3 separate regions of the Homo sapiens genome follow, and regions 1 and 2 are each linked to region 3. Evidence: fine-mapped expression QTL. A gene starts in region 3. Each other region holds a variant in brackets. All regions are shown on one strand. Distances are from middle to middle.

Region 1 (10,234 bases), 77 kb before region 3:
GTTAATAAAAACATCCTCCTTTTCTGGCGCTGGTCCTGCTTACCTGACCCTCAAGGGAGACATCTAGTCCCACACAAGGCATCTCTCCCAATACTGGAAAATCTGGAACACTCTCTACCCTCATACACGCCCAGACTAATGTGCCCAAATGTACTTTGCAAATTATCAAGGACCAAACAAAAGTTGGGATTATTATCTTCAGAGAGGCAGCACCCAGGAGATCCCAGAGATCTAGAAAGGCTCTGACCAGAAGAGGAAAGGGTTAAATTCTCAGCATCAAAAGACATTCATGAAACACCTATTTGCGGAGGCGCTGTCCCAGAAGCTCATTCCCGGGCTAGGACACTGCCACCCTTGGCCCTGGGTACCTACGAGCGCTCCCACACGCTGCGGTCGAGCTTTGCCCACATTTGCTGAGCAGGAGAGGGTCATGCTGCGGGTGGGGAGCCCAGTGCGAAGGCCGCAAGTGTTTCTGTCAGCCCAAAACTGGGGCTGCGCCTTCCTTCTTCTCCCACTCGGGACTTTCGGACTTGCGGGCGGAAGAACGCTACACGCGTGGTCCTGGGATGGGAGGCCACCGATCACCGTGGGGCTGGACCCCCATCGAAGTCGGCTGCCCCCGCCCCTGACGCAGACCCTCCACAACAGCATGGAAAGGGTGCACAGATAGACCCAGAGTCCGAAAGACCACTGACCCTCCGCAGGCCCAGGGTTCCTCAATTCGACCCGCACCCTCAACACTCCCCAACGTCGGAAGCGGGCGCAGGGTCGAGGCCTGGCTTCATGAAAGGCCCACCGCCTCTGCCCCTAGAGGCCTTCTGCTTCTGCTGTCCCCCTACGCTTGGCCATTGCGCATAGTCCTCCAGCCATAAGAACCGGCACTGAGGACCGGGAAGCGCTAAGGTCGCCTTCCAGCGGTGTCCCCAAGCTGACCCCAGGTTATTGGGGCGCAACAGGAGCCTCGTAGAGCCTCGGGACTCCTCCCCCGCAGCGTAGCCTCTGTGCCCTCCCCACGGCCGCAGGCGCAGCTCCGAGACCTTCAGCGCGGTTTTGCCTCTCCTCTCCCCAACCCCCTCTCAGGGGACGGCGCTCTTCGCGGGGCACACTGCACCCGGGTAGGAGCGCGGTGGGGGCCGGGCCACCGTGCCTGCTGGGCAGACCAGGGGCGGGGAAGCAGGCCTGGCTTGGGCGGGGCGCTTAAGCCTTGAGGGGCGCCGCTGCGGTCGCTGCGGAGAAGGGGCCACGTGCAGGGAGCGGCGGCCGGGGAGCTGCACAGAAGGCGTGGAGATTTGCAAACTGTTGCTGCCACATGGCTGCTCCATTCGATCCATTCACATTGAAATGAGGCCGGCGCGTGCCTCATCTGCCGCAGGGCGCTGCCACGCGTCAGCCCGGCCCGCCGCGTGCCAACTGGGGCAGTGGGACTGGCAGAGCCTGGCAGCCGTGGGGGCGCAGCCCGGGGCCTGAGGCCAGGAGGGTGTTGGGGGAGGGAGTCGAGCTACCCTAGCCATTCAGGCGCCGCAGTTTCAAGGACCTTGGCCCTACAATTGGGAGTGAGCTGGCGAGAAAGGCCCAGGACCGACGGGTTTCAGAGGGGGGCCGGGATCGATGCCGCCGCTCCCCGCAGATGCGCCCCGGCAGGGCTACTCTCCATCTGCCGCTGCTCGCACCTGCCGGTCAATAAATCGATTTTACAATTTAATGCAGCAGCTTCCCGCCCGCCTGGGACAGATGCCGCAGCAGAACCACCTCCGCCCTCGCCCCTCCCCTCGAGGGGCGCCAGCGGTTAGGGACGGGATTCCCGCTCAGCAGGCGGTGCCCCGCGTGGCCTCCTTCACCTCTCTCTGGAGCCCCCACAAGGAACCGCCTGCTGAGGGTTTTTCCCGCGGGACAGAGTGGGTTCCCCATAGAACAGGCCTGAGACTGGAGAGAGGAGTGAGGAAGGTGATGACTTGGTGGTGGCCTTGAGAACTCATCTGGGGGCTTCAAGGGAGGAACAGGATGCAGTGACTGATGATAAGAAGGGCCCCGGTGAGAAGGAAGGGGTAGGGCATGGGCGCTGAGGGACACCGAACTCTGAAGAATCTTGGTCAGGGGGACTGAGCAGAGATGGGGAGGAGGCAGGAGGAACGAGTCTCTCCCCACCCTCCAGGTGAGTCTGGTGAATAAGCCTGACATGGACCTGCTTCTTGGCACTTCCTAACCATGTGGTCTTGGGCTTGTAACCTAACTCTAGCTCTACACTCAGTTTTCTCATCTGTGCAATGGGATAATAATAATAGGGATGGCCGGTGTGGTGGCTCATGCCTATAAGCCCAGCATTTTGGGAGGCTGAGGAGGGCAGATCACTTGAGGTCAGGAGTTCGAGACCAGCCTGGCCAACATGGTGAAACCCTGTCTCTACCAAAAAAAAATACAAAAAGTAGCCAGGCATGGTGGTGTTTGCCTGTAATCCCAGCTACTCAAGAGGCTGAGGGAGGAGAATTGCTTGAAGCTGGGAGGCGGAGTTTGCAGTGGGCAGAGATCATGCCACTGCACTCCAGCCTGGGCGACTGAATGAGACTCTGTCTCTAATAATAATAATAATAATAATAATAATAATAATAATAATAATAACCTTGGAGCCTTGGAGAGTGGCTGAGGGACTGTATCAGATTATGCATTCATGGGACCCAATAAACAGTCATTTCCTTTCCCCCAGGTGACATCCAGACAGTCAGGGGCAGACTTAGAGTGGAGGGGAGCTCCCTGACTGCAAATGAGTTCCAGAAGGAAATGAAGGAAAAAGGAGAACCGCAGACAAATGCTCATAAGGGATGAGGCATGAGGAGCAGAGGGTGGGGAAAAAAGAGAGGAAAGCTAGGTGGGGCTCGGAAGGGATCCGGACCCTGTGGAAAAAGCCAACTGTTGGAGGTCCTGTTTGTGGCAAGAGGGTGTGACAAAGTTCTTGACTGGAGGGAGAAGACTGGAGCTTTGAGAATGGGTTTGGGGAAGATATGAAGGTTTGGAGGAACTAACTGCTCACAGTCTTGGCCTTCGGAAACCAAGACGGCACTCCTGCCAGGGCCAAGTGTAGGTTTCAAATTGTAACCCCTCCTCCTTCATGGTGGCAGTTCAGAGCTGAGACCTGTGGCAGGAAAGAGGGGCATCTTCTGCCCTGGTCCTTGAAGCTCCTGGCAGATCAGCCCTCTCTGTGTCACCAAGACAGCACACTGACCGGGCTGGACCATCCACTGGCTGATGGCTCATGACTGATGACCCAAATGTGCCAAGGAAGGGATGTCCAAGTGGTTGGGACCCTTGGCAGGAGACAGAGTCCCTGCTCTTGCTTCTCACAAGACCAGGAGGGCCTCCCCTCTCCTCCTCCCATGTTCCCCAGGAGCCCGAGGGCCTAGGCTAGTTGCAGACTGTCTCCCTTGCCTTCTCAGAAGCCCCAGTGCAGGAGATGCCTGGGACTGCGGTAACTGGTATGGACTGGGCCCTCTTCTTCTGGAGGAGAACAGCTTGGGTCTGCGGAGACCATGGGCCCAAGAGAAGAGAAGCTGAGGGTTCGCCACATGAGAAGCATCTTCTAACCATGACTCATGGCCGGCAGACATTCTCTCCAGGCCTTCTGGGTGCTGGTCAGCAGGAGAGAAAGAAGAGGGGGCAGAGTGAAGACCTGCCAGCTGGAGAAGCCTAGATAGGCCTGGCTGCAAGGGCTAGAGTTACGGTGACCCGGCAGCTGCCCCAGCTTCATTTGCCAAACCCAGGGAATGCCTGGAAAGCTAGGGCCAGGAGCCACGCAGTGGGTATTTCCAGCCACGGAGCAGGCCAGGGTTTAGGGCAGCCTCCGCAGCAACTTTCCCAGAGCCCCCGGCTTCCCCTTCCCTAGCTCCTTCCTGTCCCTACCCTAGCCAGCAAGCAGGGAGGCTCAGGGGAAGGGAGGGAAGGCTCAGGGCAGCCTTGCATGAAGACCCCCGGGTGGGAGGCCTGGCCCGAGCCTGCCCTTGCCTCCCCACCTGGATCCTATAGGGCTCAGAGGCCTCTAAGAGGTCTTGTAGGGTCAGAGAATGGAGGGCACAGGGCGAAGCCTTGCTGGGAGTCACTGGGGCAAAAGAGAACTTGTGCTGAAGGACATGGTGGGGTGGGGGGCAGAGCCTGAGCTGAAAGCAGGGGTTCAGCCACCCTCTTGGACCTGCCTCCCTACCCTGAGGTTTTGCTTCCCCTGTAAAAGCTTCCTTACCTGCTCATCCTCCACCCTGGCCGTGCTCACCTCACTGTCCTCTCCTCTTGCCCCCTCTCAGGATACTGGTTGCCCATCCCTGAAACCTATTTCCTCTGTGACCTTTGCCAGCTGGGAAGCTCTCCCAGCCCCACCTTCCCCCTCAGCCTCACACCCCTCCTCTGGCTCTGGCCTTCCATTAGCATCCAGGCCCATGATTTCCCCAATCCCTTGGCGTCCCCAGGTCCTTGCGTGTCCTCTGCCTTCCCCCTACTGAGTGACAATTCATCTCCTGGAAGAAACCCTGACCTTTCCTCATTTCTCCACATAGCCTCTGATCTCTGATCCCAGCTGCCACCCAGGACTTGAAGCAAGCACGAGGCGGGGATGGGGCCACACCTCACTCTCTCCCGCTGGGGCAACCTGGGAGTGGGCTGTACTCAGATCGGCCCTGCTCCCCCGCAGACTCCCTGGAAAGAAGGGTCAATCCTGAACCAGGAAGTACTGTTTCAAATACTCTCAGACACAGAGGAAGAAACGGGGAGAGTCGGGGGACAGGTGCCAACTGTGAACAACGGCCTGAGCAGGCAGGCCACTGTTCCCTGGAGAAGGCTGGGGAGGAATCCCACTGCCATGGTCAAGTAGGTGCTGGGTCTTAAGCAGAGGATGATGACCGGCTGTCTCCTTCTCCCACCACAGTCAGAATGAGAGGAAACAGGCTTCAACTGTGGCAGGAAGGATTTAGGTTAGACGTATGGGAGAACTTCCTGTGACCGAGTGTCTATACAGTGGATCCCAGCTGTCAATCCAGGTTGAACTCTCCCCTGAACTGATGAGAATTGCACGTTGATGCTTGCTAATGAGTAACCTGCCTTGCCTGTGATTAGCAAAGAAACCCCAGGCCAGAGAATTCTCCTCGTGTCTAGACTTTCCCCAGGGAAGAAGTCCAGAGAGACCTGGAGGCACCAGGAGCTAGGCTCCCTGGGAGACCCAAGGAGTTTTCTGGACAATGTTTAGACCACTGTGAGCCAAACTCACTTTGTTTCTCCTGCCCCCACCCCTCTGGGTGCCACTCTCAGAAAATCAAGCCCAGTGGAGCTGTCCAGCCACACAAACTGCAGCAAAGGGGCAGGCTGGATTTAAGATCTGGGAGCTCATAGAGAATCTCCCAAGTGACAATGTAGTCAGGGTGTTTAGCACCAGGGGTTTCAGTAACAGCCTCCACCAACTCTGTATGTTTAGAAATAGACAGGCATCAGTCAGGCGCAGTGGCTCACGCCTGTAATCCCAGCACTTTGGGAGGCCGAGGCAGATGGATCACCTGAAGTCAGGACTTCAAGACCAGCCTGGCCAACATGGCGAAACCTCATCTCTACTAAAAACACAAAAATTAGCTGGGCGTGGTGGCAGGCGCCTGTAATCCCAGCTACTCGGGAGGCTGAGGCAGGACAATCGCTTGAACCCGGAAGGCAGAGGTTGCAGTGAGCCGAGATCAAGCCATTGCACTCTAACCTGGGTGACAAGAGCGAAACTCTGTCTCAATAACAATAAAAATAAAAATAAAAAAATAAATAGGCATCAACCAGGCATGGTGGCTCATACCTGTAATCCCAGCACTTTGGGAGGCCGAGGTGGGCAAATCATTGAGCCCAGGAGTTTGAAGACCAGCCTAGCCAACATGACAAAACCCCATGTCTACTAAAAATAATAGTTAAAAAAACTTAGCTGGGTATGGTGGTGGGCGCCTATAATCCCAGCTACTTGGGAGGCTGAGGCAGGAGAATCCCTTGAACCA[T/C]TGAGGCGGAGGTTTCAGCGAGCCGAGATCGTGTCATTTCATTCTAGCCTGGGCAACAGAGCAAGACTCTGTCTCAAAAAGAAAAAAAAAGAAATAGGCATCCACACTTGGGCCCACTTGCCCCAGTCTCATGAGTCCTGCTTGGGCAGCGTGAACACTGCTATTGTTGGAGCCATTGTGGCTGCTGAGATCCCTGTGCTTCCCAGTGCTTCTCCTGCTTCCCCTCCTCTCCTCCTGTGGCTTAACCCCCACCCCCTTACTATAGTCTTTCTCCAGGTGAGGAGGAAACTGGGGAGACCTGGGACAAGTCTATCAAAACCATCACCAAGAGAAGAGAAGGCATGCAAAAGGTGCATTCTATCTGGGGCATGGCCCTATGGGCCCCATGGTTAGTGTTCCCAGGACCCCTGTGTGTGTGTGATGTGCATGTGCAGAGTTTGGGTCCATCAGCCACTCAGTTGTGGATGAGGTCTACCATGTGCCTAGCACTGGGCTCAGGTTAGTAAGGCCACACAGGAACATAAAATTCAGCCCTTGTTGCTCACAGCAGCTGGAAATTAGATAGAAGCACATGAAAAGGAGTGTGATGACCTGTGGAACCAGGCTTCAGAGAGCAACTGGGGCCCCGAGGGTCACAGGAGGCTTTGTAGGGGAGGAGGGATGACACTGGGCCTGGAAAAAGAACAGAATTTAGATAAAGAGAAGGGGGTGGGGGCACGGGCGCGGTGGCTCACACCTGTAATCCTAGCACTTTGGGAGGCCAAGGCGGGCTCATTGCCTGAGCTCAGGAGACCAGCCTGGGCAACATGGTGAAACCCCGTCTTTACTAAAACTACAAAAATTAGCAAGGCGTGGTGGCGGGCGCCTATAATCCCAGCTACTTGGGAGGCTGAGGCATGAGAATTGCTTGAACCTGGGAGGCAGAGGTTACAGTGAGCCAAGATCGTGCCATTGCACTCCAGCCTGGGTGAGAAAGCGAGACTCCATCTCAAAAAAAAAAAAAAAAAAAAAAAAGGACAAGAGAATGAAGAGAGGCAAAGGATCTGGGTGCAAATGAACCAAGTATGGCTGGGGCAGAGACTTCACCTATGGAGGGTGGACATGAAGTTACATAGCTATGGCATGGAAACCCACCAGACAGATGAATTTGGATTTGATTGATAGGTACTAGGGAGCCTGTGGGTTCTTGAGCAGAGGAGAGTGCCGTCTGCATGCTTTCTGGCAGTGGTATGCAGGGTAGTCTGGAGCAGGGAGGTACAGAAAGAAGGCCAGAGGCAGCTAGGAACATTTCTATATCTGTGGCTGGTGACCAGGTGAGCACTTATTTCTGAGTCCTGTCCCTGAGTTGGCAGCTCCTATGCATAGATGGTGGGGCACCTGAGAATGCCAGAGGCCTGATGACTGGCTGAGATAGACTCCACATTTTCCCTGAAAGCAGCTTCTCTCTCCTCTCACCCTCTGCTTTCCAGATAGTCCCCTGCAAACATGAGACTGGCATCAGGGCTTCCCGGGCAACCATACTGAAAGTGGAGGCAGCTTCAGCCATGCTGCTGGGCTGGCCAGCCCTCTCCCCTGCCTCCTTGCTCTCCTGGCCAGCCCTCTCCCCTGCCTTCTTTCCCCTTAGAAGCCCGAGGCCCTTCCTGGCAGCCCAGACTTGCCTGGAAGAGGAGAAAGGTTGGATCGGGCCTGGAAAGCAAAAAGGGAGTCCAGAGGTACCTTGGGGGAATGACTTGGGGCCCTATGTCTAGAAGCTCAGGGTGAGGTGAGCTCTGAAGGGCACTTGGACCAACACCATATTCAATAACTAATGACTCGAATACCTCTGGGGACAGGACTCTCACCCCCTCTCCAGGCTGTCCCATGCTCTTTAGATGGTTCTGGTTATAGAAAGTGCAGCCTCTTGTGGATCTGAAAGTCCTGACACATGCTTGGCACTGGGCTGATGGTTTGAGAGGGCTTTGGTCTAGGCCTTGCGGAGGGAATTCCAGAATGGCACTGCAAGAGGGAGGGTCCACTAGCCCCTTGGGCCTGGGATGGCTCTGCTGGGTCCTGTGGACAGCCTGCTTGGTCCCCTAGGCTGGGCCACGAGAACCTTCCAGCTCAAGCTGGGGGTGGAGCAGCCAGGGTGAGGCCGCCAGGTCAGCCCTTCTCACCCTCACCAGGGAGACCAGACCCAGGTCAGACTCAGGTCTCCCAGGCTGAGATCATCACCCTCCAGCCTCCGTGGCAGCTCCCACCCCTAGCTGAGTTCACTGCTCTGGCCGGCTGGGGGACATTGTTGTCTCCTGGGCCCCTCCCTGGGCTCAATGAGCTGTTTGTTGGCAACGTCCGGCGAGGGTAAGGGGAGGGTGGGCACAAGGCGCCCGCACACAATGGGGATTCCGTCCATTCTGAGGTGGCTGCGGGAACCAGGCTGGCTTTGTCCCGTGGACCCTCATTCCCACCATTTAGCAGAGCCGGAACTTCAGGCGGAAGGCCCCGTATAAGAACAACAATGTCGTCACCCTGTCTGGGGGGGAGGGTGCTGCAGGCCAGGCATACTAGGGGCCCAGGGGACTCACAGCCTGAGGCAGCGCGAGGGGCACTTGGGATAGGTCCTGGGGCGGAGGCTGTGCCCCAAATAGGAGGCAGACACAGGCAGGCAGATGAGTGCCCTCCTGCCCGGCCAGTCCATTAAGGAAGTGGGCTCCTGGCATCCCCAGCCATGCTCAGCTCCTCTGCATGCACAGAAGAGCCCTAAGGTGCAGAGGGGACCGGCGCAGCCCATGAGCCTTGCTGGGTGGTGTGCAACAGCGAGGCTAGGTTGGGGGCAGCCTGACCCTCCTGCATCCAGCCTGGGCAAAGATCTCTGCCCAACACTGGGCCCGAGCCTGTTTCTGGGCCCCTAGGCTCGCCAGCCTGCCCCTCTGGAAGTGGTGCTGGCCGCTCAGACAACAAGTGTTTATTTTCCAGTGGGGAGGCAGGACATCACAGCGTTTCCCTCCTGCCTGGTGCTGCAGCGGTTCTCACAGTCTGGGCACTGGTGACATCACCAGCCTTTCCTCCTCAGCCCTGGCCTCCTTGCCTCCCCCTCCCCACCCCATGCCCTGGCCAGGCTATGCAGCCCTGAAGCTCCTGCTTCCGGCATGGGCACTTCTGAGCGGGTACTCATAGAGGGCGTGGGAGCAGCGAACTGGACCAGCCTCTCATCCGCTCACTGCCCCCGGCATTCAGGCCAAATCTGGGGATAGCCCCTCTGTGCTTACCTCCACCAGAGCAGTTGGTGTCCCACCCAGATCACACTCTTAGTTCCATGCTGGCCCTTTAAGGGTCTTGGGAAGCCAGAACAACAGGAAATCCAAACGGCCTCATTAGGCAGCTCGGAGCTCAGCACAGTAATTAGTGCCCTGAAAACAAAACAAGGAAAAGCAGGTGGTGGTGCCCCCCCTCAATCTATTTGCCCCCCCGACCCCGCCCCAGCGTGGCCTGTTAGTACCCACAGCTAGGCAGCTGGGAGTGGGCCCCCTCCCTCATAAGCCCCCTCACTCCAAGCTCCTGAAGCTATTGCCCACTGCCCAGGCCAAGGGTTAGAGCCTAAGCTCGTAAGGAGCGGCCGCAGCTTGAGAGAAGCCCCAGGGACGTGCACTGGGCTTCCCCGCTCCGCAGCCAGGTGGCTACTGGGCCACAGCATCCTCCACCTGTTTGGAAAATACTGTGATGGCGAAAGGGCTGTGTTGGGCTCCTCTAGGGGGAAAGGGGAGACCCCTGGGAATCCTAGGGCAAGAAGCCCCCCTCAAGAGGAGAAAAAAGCCTGCTCTGCGGTCCTGCTTCTCAGGCTTTGGTGAACCTCCAGGTGGGCAAGATCACTTGAGCAGAGGGGGTGGTAACCCACAGGACCTCTAGGCAGACCCTAGGGACTTGCAAGCCCCCTCAGCTAGTAACAGCGCGGCCAAGAACCAAAAGGGATCTTAGTGAGCTCTCCTCTATGGCCAGCTTGCAGGTCCAGGTTCATTCCATCCCCTCTCTCGTCCAACATGGCTTTTTTTTTAATATATATACAGGCTCTCATTCTGTCACCCATGCTAGAGTGCAGTGGCACAATCGTAGCTCACTGTAGCCTCCACCTCCCAGGCTTAGGTGATCTTCCCACCTCAGCCTCCCAGGTAGCTGGGACTACAGGTGCCCACCACCACACCCAGCTAATTTTTTGTATTTTTAGTAGAGATGGGGTTTTGCCATGTTGCTCAGGTTGGTCT
Region 2 (10,234 bases), 90 kb before region 3:
GAGGAGCATATTTTCGGCTATAGAGAGGGCTGTGGCACCCTAGGGACTATCCTGTGCCTTAGAGGAAGCTAGGCATGAAACTCCTAGTGAGACTGGAAACCCCCTCATTAGTGCCTCAGCAAGAGAAACCTGGACTCAGGGAAGGCTACCTCCTCCTCCCCTTTCTCCCTGTCTTTGCAGTCTTCAATAAATTCTAGCAGCCCTGGGCAGACAAGGTGCTCAGACTCTCAGCGCTCTTGTCTGCTACAAAGAGGAAAAACAAGGCAAACCTCCCTCCTGCCCTGTCTCCTGAGACCTGTACCCTGCTGGGGCTAAGAAAAGAGCCAGGCACCCTGCAACAGCAGGAGGAAGGACTCAGATGTCACCAGGGTGCAGAGGCCCTATCCCATCCACCGACGAGAGAATGCTTTTTTTTTTTTTTTTTTTTTTGAGATGGAGTCTCGCTCTGTCGCCCAGGCTGGAGTGCAGTTGCGCTATCTTGGCTCACTGCAAGCTCCACCTCCTGGGTTCATGCCATTCTCCTGCCTCAGCCTCCCGAGTAGCTGGGACTACAGGCACCCGCCACCACACTGGGCTAATTTTTTGTATTTTTAGTAGAGACGGGGTTTCACCCTATTAGCCAGGATGGTCTCGATCTCTTGACCTCGTGATCTGCCCGCCTTGACCTCCCAAAGTGCTGGGATTATAGGCGTGAGCCACCGCTCCCGGCCAAGAGAATCCTTTTGAATATGAGAAAAACAGGCAGAACTAGGGAGCCCCATAAGCTTTTTCAGGCTTGAAGAGAGGAAGGAAGAAGTGATTCAGGTCAGGAGGAACATGCCCCAGGAATGGTGAGGGCATAAAGAGGGAAGGGGGCACTGTACCAACTCAAAGTCAGCAGGCAAGGAAGGCTGGCTGAGGCTGGGGACTAGATGGGTGAGGCTCGGCTCCTCAACGAATGGAAGAAGACAAGGGCCTGGGGTACGACATGCCAAATCCAAGTGTCTGCACGGGTCCCAGGGGTTCCGGCGGGGCACATGGCAGCAGTAGAAGGGAGTTTAGAGTTTTTTGGGTGAGAGGGCAGGGGTACCATCACAAAGACAGGACCCAATAAGTAATAAACTCCTGTACACATCTGTTTCATATTATAAATACACATTATATACAAAATAATGTTATAAAATGTAGAAAGGTCAGTGCTTCTGATTCTTAAATTATTGAAATACTAGACTCCAAAATAAACTACAAAAAAAAAAAAAAAAACAAAATAAAAACTCATATTATTGATTTCTGAAGACCAGCTTTGAGGGTGGTCTGGGGCAGTAGTGGACCAGAGCCCAGGCTCGAGGTTGTGGAGATGGGCTTGAGGGAGGAAAGGGCCCAGGCGGCCGCAGCACCTGATTTCCCCCTCAGTGGAATTTCCAACACACTGCCCTGAGTGCCCCAGTTAGGCCTGGCACCCTTGGCTGGTGGGAGGGGCAGGCCCTCTGCCTGTCTGCTTACAGAAGCCCAGGGCCAGAGGGTGGTGGAAGCCGGGTAGACGGACATTCTTGCCCAAAGGGCCTAGACCAGAGAGCCAGGCCTGCATACAGTAGTTGGAGGCATGGGGCAGAAAGCACTCCCCTCCCTCGAGCACTCACCTCACCTCCAGGGCAAACCCCAGCAAGAGACGCACCCAGTGGTTTTCCAGCCCACAGGAGGCCCTGCCCTCATTGGCCCCCTCTCTCCTTTCTGATTTGGGCCCAACTGTCGCCGTGGAGCCTGGGCCAAAGGCACTTTTGGAAACACGGATGCCAGTGGAGGCCACAGCAGCTCCGGGCCCCATGGGGCTACTGCCACTCTCTCTGGAAAACAGGCCGGAGCCCCGGAAGGAGCCCCCTGAAGGCCACTACTGGCAGGGCAGTGCCCAGTGGCATCTCTCTTCTCTTCTGTTCCTCTGGTTGGTGCAGCTGCCAATCTGATGCCAGACAGACACCCAAAGGTGTGGAAGGGTATTGCATCTCTTGGCAAGTTCACAGTCTGTCCGGTTCCTGCCATTCCCTCCTCCTCCTGAGAGCAGCACGTTGCATATGAAAAACGTCCCATCCAGGATGCAATGTAAACAATGCAGAAGGAAGGTCCAGCCGCGGGGCTGAGCAGGGATGTCCAGGTAGGCTCCTGCCTTATACCTGGGAGCAAGCGGAAGGCAGGGAAACAGGTTACCCTGGGCATGCGCACTCCCTCCAGGCCCTCCCTGGGCCTCCCTGGGAGAAGGCGATGGGGCAGGCAGGGGCTAAGGGCAGGTGGGGCAGTCCTCCCCAGTCTTCGGCCCAACACACACACGGGCCTGGGAGCTTGCGCTCATGAGGTCAATGGAGGAAGCCAGTGGGAAGGGGCAGGAAGGGCACAAGGGGTGAGGGGCCCCCTCACCCATCAGAGGCTGGCCAGCAGTGCCGTGGCTGCCCAACCCAGCACCAATACAGCAGGAAAGGACCAGACCAGGCTTGCCGCCATGGTTCCTGTTTCACACCCTTAGTGGCAATGAGGCCAGCAGGGACCCAAGAGTCCACTGAACTTGGCCTGCCAAGGCAGGGTTCTGACCTACCCTTCAGGAATGGCCCATGGGTCAAGAGTGACCAGGCCACTTTCCCTCCCACAAAAGGCAGAAGGAAAGGCGAGCCCAGCACTCACCTCCGTGGCAATGACACATTCATTCCTCTCCTCTGATATCAAACACACAGACTGGTACATGGAGTCCCTGGGGGAGCATATCGCTGATATCCGACACTCTGGCTTTTCACTGAGGGAACACAAGACAGGCGTGTAAGGGAGGGACGGGGAGAGGCTTGGGGGGAGGGAGGACCCTGGAGAGCCAAAGGGCATCTGCAGGGTGGTTCTTGGGGAAGACACAGGGGCTGGACGTGCCCAGTGCTGGGCTGCTGCAGGGGGGCACTTAGGAAAAGGCCCCTAAGAGAGTCACAGGCCTCCCAACCTCACCAGAAGGGTCTGAGCCCTGCATAAAGCCAGTGCTGCCACTAGAGGCAAGCCACACTGTGGAAAGACGGAAGTCACAAGAGACACCCTAGGGACACTTGACATGTGTGAATGAACAAATGAATGAATGGGAGGGAAGGACAAAGGACCCCTGACAGAAATCCTACTGGAGGATCTTCCTGTCAGTAACAAAACCTCAGCTGCTTAACTGCTTCCCGCCTGGCCTAAGAGGAGCCTAGGCAGAACCATGTCGGGGCCGGTGGCCAGGCCCTGGGCTTCTGGGTGCCACTCACCTGTGTAACCGCAGTGGCGCCTTCTCTCCTAAGCTCTTGTCACTGTGGGGAAACTTTCCTGGCATGGTCCCCCGCCCCAGGGGCCCTGGGGCCAGATTATAGTCCAATGTGTGGTTTTGCTGTTTGCCACAGTTGGACTTGTCCAGGCCACAGTCCACTTCCAGCTCCTTCTTCTGGTTTGTGTTTTTAAGCTGGGCGGCAGGAATCAGGTTGTCCTTCTGGAAGTCCGACAAGTTGTTCATGGCTTCCCTGCTGCCGTCGTCCGGCCGTCGAAGCCGCAGCTGCCGCACAGCCACTGCCACCATGCCCAGCAGTACCAGCAGCACTGCCAGCCCCACACCCAGCGAGACGGCCACCCAGGGGAAGCTGGGCGGCAAGCCCACGGGGAACTCGCAGCGGCTGCCCACAAAGCCATAAGGGCAGTTGCACACAAAGGTGTCTGTGGAGAGGTCGGTGTAGCAGGTGGCCCTGTTGAAGCAGGGACTCGAGGCACAGGCATCGATGGATGTCCGCACCTCACAGCGTCGGCCAGAGAAGCCGGCAGGGCAGGTGCACATGAGCCCATTCTCCAGGTCATGGCAAGTGCCACCGTGGGCGCAAGGGTTACGGGCACAGTCGCTGACGTGGAGTTCACAGTAGGTGCCCGTGAATCCAGGACGGCAGCGGCACATGCGGCTTGGACCTCGGTTCAGGCACTGTCCCCCTGTGAGGACGCATGAGACACAAGTCAGTGATAGCCTGGGAGCTCCCTGGGGCAGGGGGTGGGAGCCCCATTCCAGGAACACGTTCGGGCCCTTCTACCTCCACCTGCAGAGCCCACTACAAAGAGAACTGCACAGAGTCAGGAGACCTGGAGTTTAGCATGACCTTGATTCTCTCGGCCTCAGTGGGCTCATGTATAAAAATGACTAGCATCTTACAGAACTTTAACGTAGAATCAGACAGATAGGCTTGAGTTGGGACCTCAGCTGTCACTCTGTGGCCTGAGATCTGGCACTTGCTGCTTAACCGTGTCTCTAAGCCTCAGTTTCCCCATTTGTTAGACTGGAGTAGAATGCTAGCCCCTTCATAGGATAGCCGGGAAGGTACATGAAGGCAAGAGCCCATGTTTGGTATATAGTTAATGCTCGGATAAGTACAATCATGACTGTTTTACTTCATCTTCACAACCACATGAAGGACAGAGGACAGGTATTATAGTTTCCCATTCAGTGATGAAGAAATGGCAGTGCCAGAGGCTTCAGTGAGAGAGCAGACTCCCTCTCAGCCCTTCCCACCCCTCTCCAGCTCCTGAGCGCTGCCTGCCTGCCTGCCTCACAGAGGGTCACCTGGGAGCCAGATAGACAAGGATTACCAACAGGCTTTGTGCCTCAAAAGGTGCAAACATTCAAGATGCCTCATGCTACCTCATGCTCTACCTGGGCACGGGGCAAGATGAGGCCTCCAGGAGCAGGGCTCTGACTGAATCACTGCCTCCTTTGAGGAGAAACATGAAGCCTCCAACATCCCTCTCTCCAGCTCAGGACTTCCTGGGGAGGGTCAGAGGCCACCCCAGCCAGGACGGGGTTCTGACATGGGAATAGGAATGGAAGCTATGCAGGGTGCATACCACCCCTGCTCCTAAGGCCTGCGTGCAACTAACCAGCTCCGCTTCCACAGCCCCCCAGCTGATCAAGCAAGCTCTTCGCCCTCCAGAGCAGATGGGGGGCCAGAGTGGCAGACAATGCCTCGCTCCTCTCCTGACCCTCCCTCACCAGAAGTCTCTCTCAGCCCCAGGGCCAGTCCACCAGGTTAGCAGGGCAGCAGCACGCACC[G/A]TTGGCACAGGGGTTGCTGGTGCACCTGTCCACTTTCTTCTCGCAGTTGGAGCCGGTGAAGTTGGGGGGACATTCACAAGCATAGTTGGCCCCCTGGTTGCGCTCCCGGCAGGAGCCCCCATTGAAGCAGGGGGAGTCGGCGCAGCTCAAGGTGCTGTGTTCACAATGCAGGCCATAGTAGCCCGGAGGACACAGGCAGTGGTAGCCATCCTCCTGGTCCTGGAGAGAGACCATAAAGGGGCCAAAGTCAGACCCTGGGGGGCAGGGATGTGTGACTGAAGGCTGGGCTCCACCTGCCCACAATGCCTGTCCATGGCTGTACATCCACTAACTGCCTAGGTTAGGGATGCCCAGACACCACCTGACACCTCTGTCTTCCTGCGCTGGTCTGGGCCTCACCTTACAGCTGCCTCCATTGCGACAGGGGTTGCTGTCACACTCGCTGAGCTCCAGCTCACAGTCCACACCAGTGTAGCCTGGGCGACAGGTGCAGGTGTAGCTTCGCTGCCCACTGTTGGAGCACGTTGCCCCATTCTTGCATGGGGAGTGGTGGGTGCAGTAGTTGAGATCTGCAGAAACAGGAACCAAGCAGCTGAGCAGGGCCAGGGAATGCACTCACCTCCAGGCTCCTTGCAGTCCATGTTTGCCCCCATGTTTGGCTCAAAGACACCTCAACTCAAAGTCTCCCAGGCCCAAACATCCTTCCTCCACCACCAATAAAATCTTTTTTCTTTCTCTTTCTTTCTTTCTTTCTCTCTCTTTCTCTTTCTTTCCTTCTTTTTTTTTTTTTTTTAACAGAGTCTCACTCTGTCGCCCAGGCTGGAGTGCAGTGATGTGATATAGGCTCACTACAACCTTCGCCTTCCGGGTTCAAGCGATTCTCATACCTCAACCTTCTAAGTAGCTGGGATTACAGGCATGCGCCACTGTGCCCGATTAATATTTGTATTTTTACAGGGGTTTCACCAGGATGGCCAGGATGGTCTCGAACTCCTGACTTCAAGTGATCCACCTACCTCGGCCTCCCAAAGTGCTGGGATTACAGGCCATCGCACCCAGCCTAAAATCATGTTTCTTTTTTTTTTTTTTTTTTTTTTTTTTGAGACGGAGTCTTGCTCTGTCACTCAGGCTGGAGTGCAGTGGCACGACCTCGGCTCACTGCAAGCTCTACTTCGCCATTCTCCTGCCTCAGCCTTCCCAGCAGCTGGGGCTACAGGTGCCTGCCACCACACCTGGCTAACTTTTGTATTTTTAATACAGACAGGGTTTCACTGTGTTAGCCAGGATGAAAATCATGTTTCTTAAAGCACCTTGAATCACATATGACCAGTGCAGTCAACCAAAAGTGAAACAACACAACTGGAACTGGAAGACGTCCTGCCAGGGAAACTCACAAACTGCCAACCCAAGTAGGATGAAGATAAGGAAGAAGAGCAGAGGGCAAGGCCACATGTCGGGGAGGAAGTCAGAAAAGGCTTCATGGAGGAGGGGCAGCTGAGATAAGCCTGGAAGGAGGGATAAAATTTCAACAGGTAGAAATGGTAGAGGAGAGATGAGAGCCACCATAGGCAGTAATCGGGCATTTTTTAAAGGAAGAGGTGTTACAAGGGTATTTTGAAATATAAGTATTTGTTTTTTTATTTGGGAAGGACAGGGAGGGAGAACCAGACAGAGTAAATATATGGCCTGCAAGTGCTGTGTTTGCATATGATGAGTATATGACTGTGTCACCTGGGAGCAAATATGGTGGAGAGGGAAGAGAATGAGCAGGAACCAGGTGTGTGAGTGTTGGGGTGGGGATGGTAGTAAAGGGACAGACACACACACACACACACACACACACACACAACACAGGGACTGAATCCCAAGCCCCTTGTTGACAGCAAGTCAGGGCCTAGGCAATTTCTTTCCACCCTGGCAAGCTCTCTGCCCACCCTACCCAGGCCTGCGCCGGTGTCTCTGGGCAGCAGGTGCACCCATTTGATCCTGAAAATGGGAGCTGCAGCTGGCTGCAGCTGGCTAGCAGGATGCAAGAAAAAAGGCTTCCTCCTCCCCCAAGGTTGGGGCTGAAAGGCCCCTGTATAGCCAGAGAGTGACTACCCCTAAACACCAGGTAGAGACCGCATGGGTTCAGGCAGGTGGTAACTAGGTAAGAGCAGGGGAGGCCGTTTGTGCCCACACCGAAAAGTCGGTTAGATGCCACTCCGCCCAGAGGCCCAGCTCACCCACAGCCTCAGGTGGCCGGTGGGCACACCCCACCGGACAGCTGTTTAGGGGAGAGCTGCTCAAACAGCCCTGGAAGGTAAGCAAACACTCAGGGGGTTAATAGGTAACTACGGGGTTGAAAGAGGAACTGAGCCTGCCATCCCTCTCTCTTTGGCTTTGCTAGGATTTATGAGTGCAACCTCCAGGCTGCCGACCTTGTCACCCCCCTGGGTTTTTCAGCCACCCTGGCTCCACCACCCCCTGCCGCCGCACCTGGAGAAGGACCCACCGCCTCATTCTGGGCCAGTTGTAAAGATCCTTAAAAGACCCAAGATCCTTGGAAGATCATGGGAAAGCCAAGTCTGCAGTCACCAAGTAAGAAGGATCCAGGTGACGAATCGGATTTCCACCCCCCAGCCCCATATCTCTTGCACCCTCTGCACCCTCTCTTCACCCTGACTCACCTTGGTCACAAAACAGGCCTCCCCAGCCCTCATCACAAGTACATTGCCAGGGAGTGCTGCAGGTGCCGTGGCGACAGCCATTGTGGGGGATGCATTCGTTACACAGCCGGCCCTGCCAGCCTGGGCGGCAGCTGGGGAACAAGAGAGAGGCAGAGTGAGGTGAGAGGCCTTGGCCAAGGGAGGGCTCCCACTCACCACTTCCTGTCCCCTACTCACAGGCACTCTGCTGGCTTGCTGCAGTAGCCATTCTGTTCATGACAGCCCGAAAGACAGATAGCTAAGGGAAGAACACAGAGCTGGGTGAGGCTGGGATACCAAGGACTCTTAAGCCCCATTCTCACCTGCTGGCCCTGGGGATCCCCTAGCTCTCCTGGGCCCTCTTCCTACTCCTGGCCTCCCAGAGGAGCCCCGAGTGTCTTAAAGTGAAATAATGGCACAGGGAAGGAGAAGCCAAACTGGATGGAATGTCATGATGGGGTTCTTGTGGGCTTTGGCATGATGGGAGGAGCACTGGGAAGAGACAGGAGGTCTGAGGTCAAGCCCACCCTCAGCATCCCTGAGGCCCAGCTAGTAGGAGGCCCAGACCCACTCTTCAAGGGAGGCAAGCTGTGACCAAGAAGCTCCACTGTGTTTCCTCAGGGGACCCTCCCCTTCCACACAGGTGGGAGCTTGACTGCTTACGCTGTTGGCAATATTCCCCAGTCCAACCGGGCAGGCAGGACAAGTTGCCATCTGGCTGGCACACATAGTGGCCGAAGTGGTCATTGCGCTTCTTGCACAGGCGGGAGCAGTTGTCTCCATAGTAGTTGTCACTGCAGATGACCCGGTAAGAGTAGCGCAGCCTTGTGAGGGTGCTGGTTTGCTCATCCAATAACCAGTTCTGACCCACAGCTAGGGAGCCCTGGATGGCGATCTTGCTGATGAGTGCATCTGGTGGCAAGGCCTCTGAGGGGGCAGAGGGTCGGGTCAGGGAAGGGTCGCCAGTCCCCAAGGGTGCCAGTGACGGCTGGCCAATGTCCTTCTTGGCTGTGATGATGGTGATCAGCCAACCAATCAGCCCAGTTATCCAGATGACCCCCGCCTGCCAGCAAGAACAGGCCAGAGGGACCCAAAGCCCCGCTACGTAGCTGCCCTACGTGTGTGCATGTGCAGGGGGCCTGATAGTATTCAAAAAGGGGACAATAGAAGGATGTTAAGATATCCCAGGGTCTTGGAGGCAGATAGGGAGGGGAAAGAGGAAAAGAGGTCAAAATGGAAAAAAGAGAAAAAGAAAGAAAAGCTCCCCAGGCTAGAGAGGACCCTGGGAGCAGGGGGTCCTTTGGTGCCCATTCAGGGGTTCTGCCTCCAGAGGTGGGTAATGGTTTTCTTTTTTCCTTTTCAAAGTGAGAATTGTTGTGCTGCTGAAATATCCTTTTCCTCTGTGTCAGAACAACATCCCAAAGCCATTATTCCCTTTCCAAAGGAGCGGAATTCGCGAAAGGTGTAAAATACAGGAAGGGGCCCGTCAGCGGCGCTGGCAGCTTCAGCCTTTCTCACCGCCGTACTCCCCGCGTTCCCACGCCAAAAATAACCCGCAGGAAACGCAATTGTGCTCTGAGTCCAGGCAGCGAGCGGAATCCGAGCGTCCAGCGCGGGGCGCAGCTCCAGGCCAAGCTAAGCGTCCTGCCTCCCACCCCCAAGCCCGCACTTCCCCCGCCTAGAACAGATTAACTCTTTCGGCGCTGCGCCGTGTCGCCCCCCTGTGGTGGCGGAGCGAGCTACTCACCTGGCCGCAGGTCGTCTCCTGGCGCGTGCCAAGCTTCGATGATGAGCGAGAAGGTACCCTGGGAAAGGGGGTGGGGGGACGGAGAGATGGCGAGATGAGCAAGCGGGGAGAGGTGGGGGTGCCTTGCGGCAGCCTGTTTAATTAATCTAATTGCAGGATTCAGTTACTGCGCCCGGGTCAACATAACGGGGCTGTGCACAGTGTAGCGCTTGAGCAGGGAAGGCGAGAGGAGAACCCCCGGTAGAGGGAGGGTTGAGAGACGGGAGAGTGTAAGGGAGAGCCACTGGAGGAGGGGGTGGTAGGGTACCGCCCCAGAGTGGTAGGTAATGAAAATCGTGTCCCAAGAGCTGGGGACGGGAGGACATAAACTGGGAAGACGGAGACTGGTGAGAGCCTTTTCTGGGATCAGTCTCAGGAGAGAGTCGGGAAGAGCCAGGAAAGAATGCATCCTGGGCTTTTTGGGGGTGGGGGTGTGTGTACAAGGAAATCTGGGGAGGGGGCTTTGGTCCCAGGGCGCCTCCTCTCTCGGCTTCTGCGACCTCCCAGTGCGCCCAGGCTGTGCTCACCGGCCAGGTGAAATTGAAGGGCAGTTGGAGAGGGTTGCGCCCCCCGCCGCTACTGTCGTCCCGGACAGCGAAGGAGTTGGTGCCCAATACCGGCGTGGAGACGGTCCCGAAGGTGCAGGGTCCGGGCGAGACGACCGCCTGGAAGTGCTTAAGGCAGACGCGGAAGAAAGTCCGG
Region 3 (10,234 bases):
AAAAAGAAAGAAAAGAAAAAGAAAAAACAAAAGGAGAATCCTTTGTAATGACATGTGAAAAGCACATGAAATTCAAATTTGTGTCCATCGATTGGAACACAGCCTTGCCCACACATTTACATGTTGAGTATGGCTGCTTTCATGTAACAACAGCAGAGCTGAGCAGTCGCAAGTGGGACCCTATGGCCCACAAAGCCTAATAATTTCTATTTAGATCTTTACAGAAAAAGTTTATTGACCCCTGGAGTCCATGATGTACCTTCAAAACCAGCCTGCTACACCTACATTCTCACCCTCTTTTCAGATGAGAAAGTTGACACCAGAAAGATTAAATGGCTTGCTCAGAGTCATTCAGTTTCTAAAGGCAGAGCTGGGATTTGAACCAAGGTCTGTCAGACTCCACAGCAAATGCTCTCTCCAAAACGTAATTCTATAGGTTATCCACCCCCTCAGAGGTTGTGATTTTAATTGCTTTTATAATGTTGGGTTTTTAAATTTTGCTTTTCTAGTTTAGGTAATACATATATGACATAAAATTCAAAAGGTGGCTGGGTGTGGTGGCTCATACCTGTAATCCCAACACTTTGGGAAGCTGAGGCAGAAGGATGGCTTGAGCCAAGGAGTTTGAGACTAGCCTGGGCAACATAGTGAGACCTCGTATTTACAAAATAAAAAATTAGCTAGGTGTGATGGTGTGATGGCTACTTAGCTATTCATGAAGATGAGGTTGGGAGGATCGCTTGAGCCTGTGAGGTTGAGGCTGCAGCGAGCTGTGGTTACACCACTGAACTCCAGCCTGGGTGACAGAGTGAGACCCCATTTCTCTCTTTTTTTTTTTTCCTGAGACGGAGTGTTGCTCTGTTGCCCAGACTGGAGGGCAGTGGCGTGATCTTGGCTCACTGCAAGCTCCGCCTCCTGGGTTCACACCATTCTCCTGCCTCAGCCTCCCAAGTAGCTGGGACTACAGGTGCCCACCACCACACCCGGCTAATTTTTTGTATTTTTAGTAGAGACGGGGTTTCACCGTGTTAGCCAGGATGGTCTCAATCTCCCGACCTCGTGATCCGCCCGCCCCGGCCTCCCAAAGTTCTGGGATTACAGGCGTGACCCACCGCGCCCGGCCCGACCCCATTTCAAAAAAAAAAAAAACAGAAAAACCAAAACCAAAAGGTACAAAAGCCTAGTCAAAATTAAGTCACCTCTTCTCCTTAAGAAGGAACCTTCTCCATCAGGTTTATTACCCCAAAGGTATGTATGAGACAGAGAGAGAGAGAGAATATCAAGAGACAGTATTTGAATTCACAAGCATTTGAGTTCTTCATCTTGTTTTGCCCTTTATATATATTGGAAATCATTCCATAGTGACACATAAAGAGTTTCCTTTTGTTGTTGTTGTTGTATCATATTCATTGTATAAATGCACCACAATTTATAATTTATTTAAACAGTCCCTACCAGTTTCCTGATTTAGATTTTCTTTCTTTCTCTCCTAAGAACTAAACCATGCTACCTTAGGGTTTATTATTATTATGAAAACAGCATCACAGTATTCAATTATAGGATGTGTTGACAGACAATGCGATTGTTTCCAATTCTTCGTTATTATAAACAATACTACGGGGACTAACTGGCTGGTAAGTTGTTTTATCCGTGTGTAGGTACAGCTGCAAGATGAATTCCTACAAGTGGAATTGTGTCCAGGGCTGTGTGCATTTAGGTTTGATAGATATTGCCCAACTACCCTCCACAGAGGCTCTCTAGAGAGTTTTTTCAAGTGTTAGAGTGAATGCAAAGAAAGAAGAGAAGGTAAAGAGCTAAGAACAGCTGGTAGGAGGCCGAGTCTCAGGGATTCCTCTTTGATGAAGTAGAGAAAGCAGAGCCAATGGGGGACTCACAGAAGGTGGTTCTGGGGCTGAGAAGACCAGGATGCACAATGACAGCAAAAGGGATGGGAAGGGAGAGATTTCAGGAAGAAACATGTTGAATGTTTCAGAGGCCTACAAAAATAGTAAAAAGAGAACTGGGTTCCAGGGATTAGGGAAAATAAGACAGGGATGAGCAGGAACGAAAAGTGGCTGTCTGGAGGCAACCTCCCAGCCCAGGGGCTTGGCTGACAAACAGGAGAGTACCCTGAGAACACCTGCCAAGGGAGTAGCGAGCTGGGAGGAGCGCAGTCCTCCCTCCTTGCATTTTGTAGAAAGAAGACAGACTACTTAGCAGTCTGCCTAGCAGACAGACAGGCTAGCCCCACCAGGCCCCCAGAGTGGAAGTAGCATGCAGAGTGATGCATCAGACTTTGAGCTGAATCAGGGGCTGAATCCCACCCCAACACAACTCAGTCCTCTCCAAGCCCCAGCCCCCAGGACCAAGGAGCAGGTACCTTGCCTTACCACTCCCTTCCTCCCACCCGCAAGAGAGCAAAGGGCTAGAGTGGCAATAAAACCAGCCCCTCCCCCAGTTAGTTACCAGGTCTCAGGACCTCAGGGAAGTGCAGACTCCGCCTCCTAAGCCACTCCTTCATAGGACTGGGGAGGAGGAGAGGTGGGGGAAGAGAAGGGGAGAAGAGGAAGTGCAAGCTGCTCCGCCTCCAGCTGCAGGAATCTGTACTGGCCTGGCCTGGCCACAGGCAGAAGGAGGAACAAACAAACCCATTCTGGGGAGCATTTATCTATGCAATAGGAGAATCAAAGGTTTGGAAGCTCTCAGTGCCCGTGACCCACGTCACCCAACCCACCTCATCCACCCTAGCCCTTAATGGCTCTACCCTGTCATTACCCACCTCCAACCTCTCTAACTGGACCCAGGTGAGAATAAACCCCTTGACACACACACAGCTTTTTCCTCTTCCCAAAGCACTGCAGCACTCTAAGAATGGCCTAGAATGGCCTGGAGCTCATACTAAGTCCAAGCCCTACCTGCCTCCCTCAATGTCCCAGGAAATCCCCACTCCACCCTCTCTTGTGGCAAACAGGCAGGTCCTGGGGGTTTCCAGATGAGGATGGCTGGTCTCAAGACCATGGGGCCATAGTCCAGCTAAGCTCCCTGACCAGACTCCAGAATTTCACACTCTGGCTCTGGAGAGGGACTCCCATGGGGCCTCTGTGGAGCAGGAAGGGCATGAGCAACTCAGGTCAGTAAGAGTCATCACCACCTACACTTTCTGCTACTTCCTTGTGGAACAGGCTGCAGCCCTGGTTCAGTGGGACTTGGTGGCCCAGACTGGCCCTCAGATATGTCCCCCTCCCATCCACAGGAATCCCCATCTCGCCTCTCCTCAGAGACCCAGGAGAGCTACTGGAAGGATAGGGAGGAAAGAGGACCCTCCTTAGCCTGGCAGAGAGACTAGCCCAGGAAAAGTCTGCGGAGGAAAGCCCTTTCTCCACTTTCCAGAACGGAGACCACCCCCAGATGTGGCCCCAGCCCAGTTCTGGCCCCCAAACTCCCCAATCCCCGGTTCTGTTATCCACTGGGCTATTTTGGGTCAGAATGCTAGGTTTTTACCAGAGAGATGGTCTTGTGTGAAAAACAGCACAGGACTTTTTTTGGAGGTCTCCCCTGGGGTGAATCTCAGGCCTACCATTTATGGGCAGTGTTACCCTGGGCAAATTCTTTAACATGGGAGTCTTAGTTTCCTAATCTAAAAAGTGGGATGACTGCTAGTAGCACCCTTTTTGGAAGTTGTTGTGATGAGGCCTGAGTGAGAGGATGTGTGGCACAGCAATCAGTAAGCTGTAAAGTGCTCACAGAGGTTATGAGAGGTGACCTACCCCTGCCCTGGAGCCCCACCTGGCCAGAACAGCAGGTAGAGAGAAAGGGGGAACCAAGGCTCTGGACTGGCCCTGATCCCAGCAGACAGTTCAGTCCGGGGAAGAAAGAGGAGGAGCCCTGGCCTCCGCTTTGCCTTTATCTATGGAAGTAAACAAGGTTTGGCTACCAGATTCTAAGCAGGGAGAGCCCTGTCTGGCTCATGCGCATGCACACACACCTGCCTGGACAGCTGACATCCCTTCCCTACTAGGTATACATACCAACAGGCTGACTCACCCCACAACCCTCCTCATCCCCCACCCCAGAGCCTCTAGGCTTCTGTGCCTACAACATCACTTCTCTCCCTTTGGATCAACCGCAGACTGGGCTTGTTTTCTAGTCTCGGATCTGGCAGTCTTCCTGGACCACCAAAAGGCCAATGCATTCCTAGGGGGTAGAGAGATGCTAAGCAGTCCCAAGTCCAGCCAGTGGAGGAGACTATGGCCAGGCTCACCTGACAGGGCATCGGTGTGCCCAGACCAGTGCTTGGCCAAGGTGCCTTTCTAGTCACCAGACCATCCAGACAGCTCACTCCTTCAATCAGCCTATCAGTGCCAGAGGTCAGGAGTCCTGGGGACTTCCTCTCCCCTCCAGTACACACAGCCCAGAGCCAAAGGCCTCCCTGTGAGCACCAGCCCATCACCTCTGAACATCCTGAGTTCAGGAGCCAGAGCCTGGGCCCTGCCCTCCCTACTCATGTCCCCTTTCATTTGTTTACTGTTTGTACTGCCTACTACCGATGTGAAGGCGATCTGGCTGTGACATCTGTCACCCCATTGATCACCAGGCTTGATTCGGCTGTACTGCCTACTTCTAAGGAGGGCTTCAGGTAGAAATAATCCCAGCACTTTGGGAGGCCAAGGTGGGTGGATCACCTGAGTTCAGAAGTTCAAGACCAGCCTGGCCAACATAGTGAAACCCCGTCTGTACCAAAAAAAAAAAAAAAAAAAAAAAAAAAAAAATTAGCCGGGTCTGGTAGCGGGTGCCTGTAGTTCCAGCTACTCCGGAGGCTGAGACAGAAGAATCACTTGAACGTGGAAGACGGAGGTTGCAGTGAGCAACCAGAGATTGCGCCATTGCACTCCAGCCTGGGCGACAAGAGCGAGACTCCGTCGCAAAAAAAAAGAAAGAAAAAGAAAAAAAAAAGTGAACTCTCCTTAACTCCTCTCTGATGTTCGTCTCCCCTAGGACCCCATAACCAGTCCCTTTTTTGAGTCTCTCCAAACCCATCCATCTTGGCACCCTCCTCACCTCCAAAGCCCTGGGTCCGCAGCTGGCGGTAGGAGCGGTACACTTCCCTCGTGAGGTAGTTGATGAAGCCCTCCCTGGGCGCGAACTTGCACACGAAGTTCTGCTCGTAGAGGCAGTTGATGAGGAAGCAGGCGGCGATGGCGTCCTCCCCGCGGTCGGGCTGCAGCTCCACTAGCGCCAAGTTGCAGTTCTGGGTGGTGCAGCAGGCGCGCACGCAGTCCCAGCCCCGGCGCACGGTGGGGGACTCCAGGAAGGTAGCTCCGTTGCTGACCGAGGCGTTGGTGTCCAGCACGAAGCCAGGCACCCCGGCGGTAAAGCTGTTCAGGCAGTCGGCTCCCGCGGGCAGCCCAGGGGGCGCGGGCGGTGGCCCGGCCTGGGTGCCCTGGAGGCCGAGCGTGCACAGAAGCCACAAGGCGACGGCAGGGATGCCGGCCGGGGCGAGGCGGGCGCGGGCCATCGTCCTCGCAGGGGCCATCGCCTTCCTCCCCAGGGGGGTCACCTTCAGAGCGCGGGCCTCTGGGTTCCGAGGGTGCTGGTGACCTGAGAAGAAGGGAGGGGACAGAGGAGGAGACACACCTGATCAGCCCGGGAGACTTTGGAGGAGGCGGGCCGGCCGGGAGGAAGTGGCGGGGAGGAGGGACCGGAGCACCCCAGGATCGAAGAGGGCGCACGGGCCCGGCCCTCCCACGCGCCCTCCAGGGACCCGGCAGCCAGACAGACGGACAGGCGGACCGCTAGGGAGCTCAAGTACCCGGACACACGCACGAGCGCAGAACAAAGGGCCGGACATGCTCCAGCCCGCTCCGCCTGCGCCTCGGCCTTGCGCGCGGGGGCCCGGGTTACCTGCGCAGGTGAGTTGGGTGGGGCCGGGTCCGCCGAGGTTCCGGTCCCAGCTTCCTGCGCGGCTCGGGTCGCGGCTTCCGACCCGGTGCTCGGAGAGCTGGGGCTCGGCCGCCTTCTCCCCCTGGTTTCTGGTGAAACTGAGTCAGCGCCGTCGGGGCGGGGCCGACATTCACCCTTGCGCTGCCGGCCCCGCCCACGCCCGGTGCGCTGCGGCCGCCTCTAGCGCGGAGCTCCAGGCCCGGCCCGCCCCGCGGCCCCGCAGCCCCGGTGCCTCCCCGGCAGCCAGCTCCCCGGAGGGGCTCTCGGGCTCCACCCAGTCCAGCCTCGCGAGGGAGCCCCGCGCCCGAAGCGCATACCCAGCCGGGAGGGGATGCGGCCGGGACGCGAGGGTCCGGCCTCTGGGGCGGCGGCCTCCAGTCTTCCTTTCCGGCCGGGGCCTGCTTTCCCAGCCCCAGACCTGAGGCCCGATGCAAATGATCTTTCCGGCCCTCAGGAAATCATTTCCATTTCGTGGCGGGAAGGTAACCCAAAAGTTGCGTGGCTGCACCTGTGATAACAGGGATCCGGGATGTCTGCCTCACTGTCAGCTCCGGGAAGCCCTCCCTGCTGTCAGGGTGAGAAACGGAGGCGATTCCCCGCGTCCAGGCTCCCCTGCGTGCTCCACGGGGCTTCCCTGTTGTTCGAGGCCCCTCCTCATCTTGTATGTACAGTTCGGTCCATTCCCTGCTATGGCTCATTGGACTGTTGCCCCCTTCCCTGGAGCCCAGGCTTCCTCTCTTTCACAAAGGGGACGCTGCTGGCTACTTTCTTCCAGGGAAATGTCATCCTTGGAAGCCTGGAGGTTCCAGTTCACCAAGTAGCTGAGTTAATGCCCTTCACGAAACAGTGGACTCCTTGAAGCCAAGCTCATTGCTCCTCCTGAGTAAAAAACTCTTAAGAGACCATTCTCTACGGCAAGGGTCTGAACAGGTGAAAGACAGATGAAGGCAGGGCTGGAGGAAGGAATCACATAGCATGCTCTCTTAAAATACAGATTCCAAACCTTTTCCTGATGGCTTAACAACCCCCAAACCAATGGGAACATTCTTCCCAGTTTCTCATCCAGAGCAGCTTTGCCTAGCAGATCCTGTGGCCAACCCTTGGATTTTGCTGAACTGCAACATCCTCCAGCTGCTCACATGATGCGTGTTGGGGTGGGAATCTGGGGCCTGTCTCCCCTTCTCTGGATGTTTAGGGTTTATCCACAGACCCTGGCACACTGGTGGATATACAACAATGGTGGTATGCTGGGAATGAAGAAAATGATTGTGCAGTCACTGGGAAGAAAGGGTTTTGTTGTGATTTGATTTCCCCTTATGGCTAACACATTCAAGAATCTTTATTTATTTATTTATTTATTTTTTTTTTTTTTTTTTTGAGACGGAGTCTTGCTCTGTCACCCAGGCTGGAGTGCAATGGCACGATCTCGGCTCACTGCAACCTCTGCCTTCCAGATTCAGGAAATTCTGCCTCAGCCTCCCAAGTAGCTGGGCTTACAGGTGGGCACCACCACGCCGAGCTAATTTTTGTATTTTTAGTAGAAACGAGGTTTCACCTTTTTGGCCAGGCTGGTCTTGAACTCCTGACCTCAGGTGATCCACCCACCTCGGCCTCCCAAAGTGCTAGGATTATAGGCGTGAGCCACTGTGCCTGACCTCAAGAATCTTAATACAGGAAAATATTACCTTATGGTAATATTACATCACCATAAATTTATCATTACATCCATTATACACACCATTATAAAAACCAACATGAATTCAGCACTGACAATGCCCAAACTCTGTTCCTAAGCACTGCCCACATATTACCCTATACTCAAAACAAACCTAGGGAGGTAGTATTTTTAGCCCCATTTTACAAATGAGCAAACAGGCTCAGACAGGTAAACTGACTTGTCAGGTCATTCAGCATTGAAGCGGCAGAGTAGGGATTGGAGCCCAGGCAGGCCAATTCCATGGCTTCAGTGCTTAAACCCTGGGCTTTATGGCCTTTGCAATTCTGACTTCATCTGGAAGTTCTGCCCTCACCTCAGATTCAACTTGCTTAAACCCATAACTCACTTTCAAGTGGTGAGCACCCACCATTTGTTGAGATGCCCACTGTGTTCCCTCCAGGCACTTGACATAGGATTGCTAATGCTCAGGACAACTCTAAAAATTGCTTCCACTTTGCAGAAAGGTTCACTGACTCCATCAAGGTCAGGTAGTGAACGAAGAGTGGTGACAGGTTGTAGAGAAGTTGAACTTGTGAGCTTCAGACTCAGACTACTGGATTTAGCTCTTGCATCTGCCACTTACTATTCGTGTGGCCTTGTGCAAGTTATTTGATCTCTCTGCCTTAGTCTCCTTGAATGGGAAGTGGGGCTTCATAAGGTTTTTTATGAGGATTAATTGAGTTAATGCAGACAAAGCATTTGACACAAAGAGTTCTCAATAAATGTTACTTGAAACGACAACAACAACAACAACAAAAACACATGGTGGTGAGGATGCAGAGAAAAGGGAACGCTTATACATTGTTGGTGGGAATGTAAATCAGTTCAGCCACTGTGGAAAGCAGCTTGGAGATTTCTCAAAAACTTAGAACTACCATTCAACTCAGCAATCCTATTACTGGGTATATACCCAAAGGAAAATATATTGTTTTTCCAAAAAGACACATGCACTTGTACGTTCATCACAGCACTATTCACAATAGCAAAGACATGGAATCAACCTAGATGCCCATCAATGATGGATTGCATAAAGATAATGTACTTCATACGTACCATGGAATACTATGCAGCCATAAAATTAACAAAATCATGTCCTTTCCAGCAATACGAATGCAGCTGGAGGCCATTATCCTAAGCAAATTAAGGCAGGAACAGAAAACCAAATACCACATATTCTCACTTATAAATGGGAGCTAAGCATTGAGTACACATGGACATAATGATGGAACAATAGACACTGAGGACTACCAGAAGAGAGAAGGAGGGAGGGGAGCGTGGGGAGCGTGGGCTGAAAAACAACCTTTTAGGTAATATGCTCACTACCTGGGTGACAGGCTCATCTGTACCCCAAACCCTATACCCATGTAACAAACCTGCATGTGTACCCACTGAATCTAAAATAAAAGTTGAGGCCAGGTGCAATGGCTCATGTCTGTAATCCAAGCACTATGGGAGGCTGAGGCAGGAGGATTGCTTGAGCCCAGGAGTTCAAGACCAGCCTGGGCAACATGGCAAGACCCCGTCTCTATAAAAAAAAATACAAAAAATTAGCCAGGCATAGTGGCGCATGCCTGTAGTACCAGCTACTCAGGAGGTTGAGGTGGGGGGATTGCTTGAGCCAGGGAGGTCAAGGTGGCAGTGAGCTATGATCATGCCACTGCACTCCAGCATGGGTGAAAGAACTAGACCCTGTCTCAAAAATAAGTAAACAAAATAAAAGTCGAAATGATTCTTTTAAAAAAGTGACAGAGCCAGGATTGTATCTGAAGTCTTTTTGACATTAAAAGCCATACTTTCCATACTACCTTATGCTGCTTCTTACATACTAATAAGAAAAACTACATGTGAAGAGAAGAAAGACTATAAGGTATGCCATCAAAGTAGGGAAAGTGATGGTATTTGAATGGTGAGACTGTAGGATAACATTTCTTCTTTCTAGTTTTAAAAATATTTTCCAAGATCCCTTCAGTGAACATGGGATGCTTCCATAATGAAGAGAGAGACACACCGTGATGACCTCCACATACCATATTTGATGACAGTCTTCCTTGGTAATCACTCACATCCATCTCTTGTCTGTTCCCACTGCTGCCCTTAATCTAGGCTCTGTGCCAGCTTCCTGATGGAACTCCAGGCCACCCTGCACACTGCCATGTGGTTCCCTCCTCCAGCCCTGCCTTCATCTGTCCCTCACCTGTTCAGACCCTCAGTCATCCCCAAGAACTTCTCTGGCAGAGTGTACAGAGCCAACTGTTCCCTGGACCGACTCATGAAGTTCAGTATTTGCTTAGGCAGAGAGTGTCAGAGCTGTCAGAGGAGAGTCAGCTAAAACCCTTCCCCTGGCTGGGCACCGTGGCTTACGCTTGTAGTCCCAACACTTTGGGAGGCCAAGGCAAGAGGATTGCTTGAGGTCAGGAGTTCGAGACCAGCCTGGGCAACATAGTGTCTGAAAAAATAAATTTTAAAAAACAACCCAGCCAGGCACGGTGGCTCACGCCTGTAATCCCAGCACTTTGAGAGGCCAAGGTGGGTGGATCACGAGGTCAAGAGATTGAGACCAGCTTGGTCAACATGGTG

What was found. PIP is the estimated chance that this variant, and not a neighbour inherited with it, causes the effect.
Region 1: its variant is fine-mapped to the expression of SPINT1 in whole blood (TOPMed, PIP above 0.99).
Region 2: its variant is fine-mapped to the expression of SPINT1 in blood mononuclear cells (TOPMed, PIP 0.98).

What each region holds. Positions count from the first base shown.
Region 1 is chr15:40,917,183-40,927,416 of GRCh38, reverse strand. No RefSeq gene overlaps it. Among named protein-coding and RNA genes, the nearest start is that of DLL4, 7.0 kb to the left of the region's middle. RefSeq lists an enhancer at 1,386-2,231. The variant T/C (reference allele first, on the strand shown) is at 6,000.
Region 2 is chr15:40,929,942-40,940,175 of GRCh38, reverse strand. DLL4 (delta like canonical Notch ligand 4) reads right to left here. Exons shown (of 11, transcript NM_019074.4): 2 at 10,060-10,234; 3 at 9,494-9,551; 4 at 8,410-8,673; 5 at 7,945-8,005; 6 at 7,729-7,859; 7 at 5,459-5,628; 8 at 5,059-5,278; 9 at 3,246-3,948; 10 at 2,650-2,758; 11 at 1,103-2,147. The coding sequence ends at 2,142. Among named protein-coding and RNA genes, the nearest start is that of DLL4, 5.7 kb to the right of the region's middle. RefSeq lists an enhancer at 1,159-1,975. The variant G/A (reference allele first, on the strand shown) is at 5,060.
Region 3 is chr15:40,839,854-40,850,087 of GRCh38, reverse strand. It overlaps SPINT1 (serine peptidase inhibitor, Kunitz type 1), which reads right to left and starts at 6,040. Exons shown (of 11, transcript NM_003710.4): 1 at 5,902-6,040; 2 at 5,059-5,598. The coding sequence starts at 5,533. It overlaps SPINT1-AS1 (SPINT1 antisense RNA 1), which reads left to right and starts at 5,564. Exons shown (of 2, transcript NR_146468.1): 1 at 5,564-5,909. RefSeq lists silencers at 5,359-5,598, 5,889-5,948, 6,029-6,258, 6,420-6,602 and an enhancer at 5,896-6,467.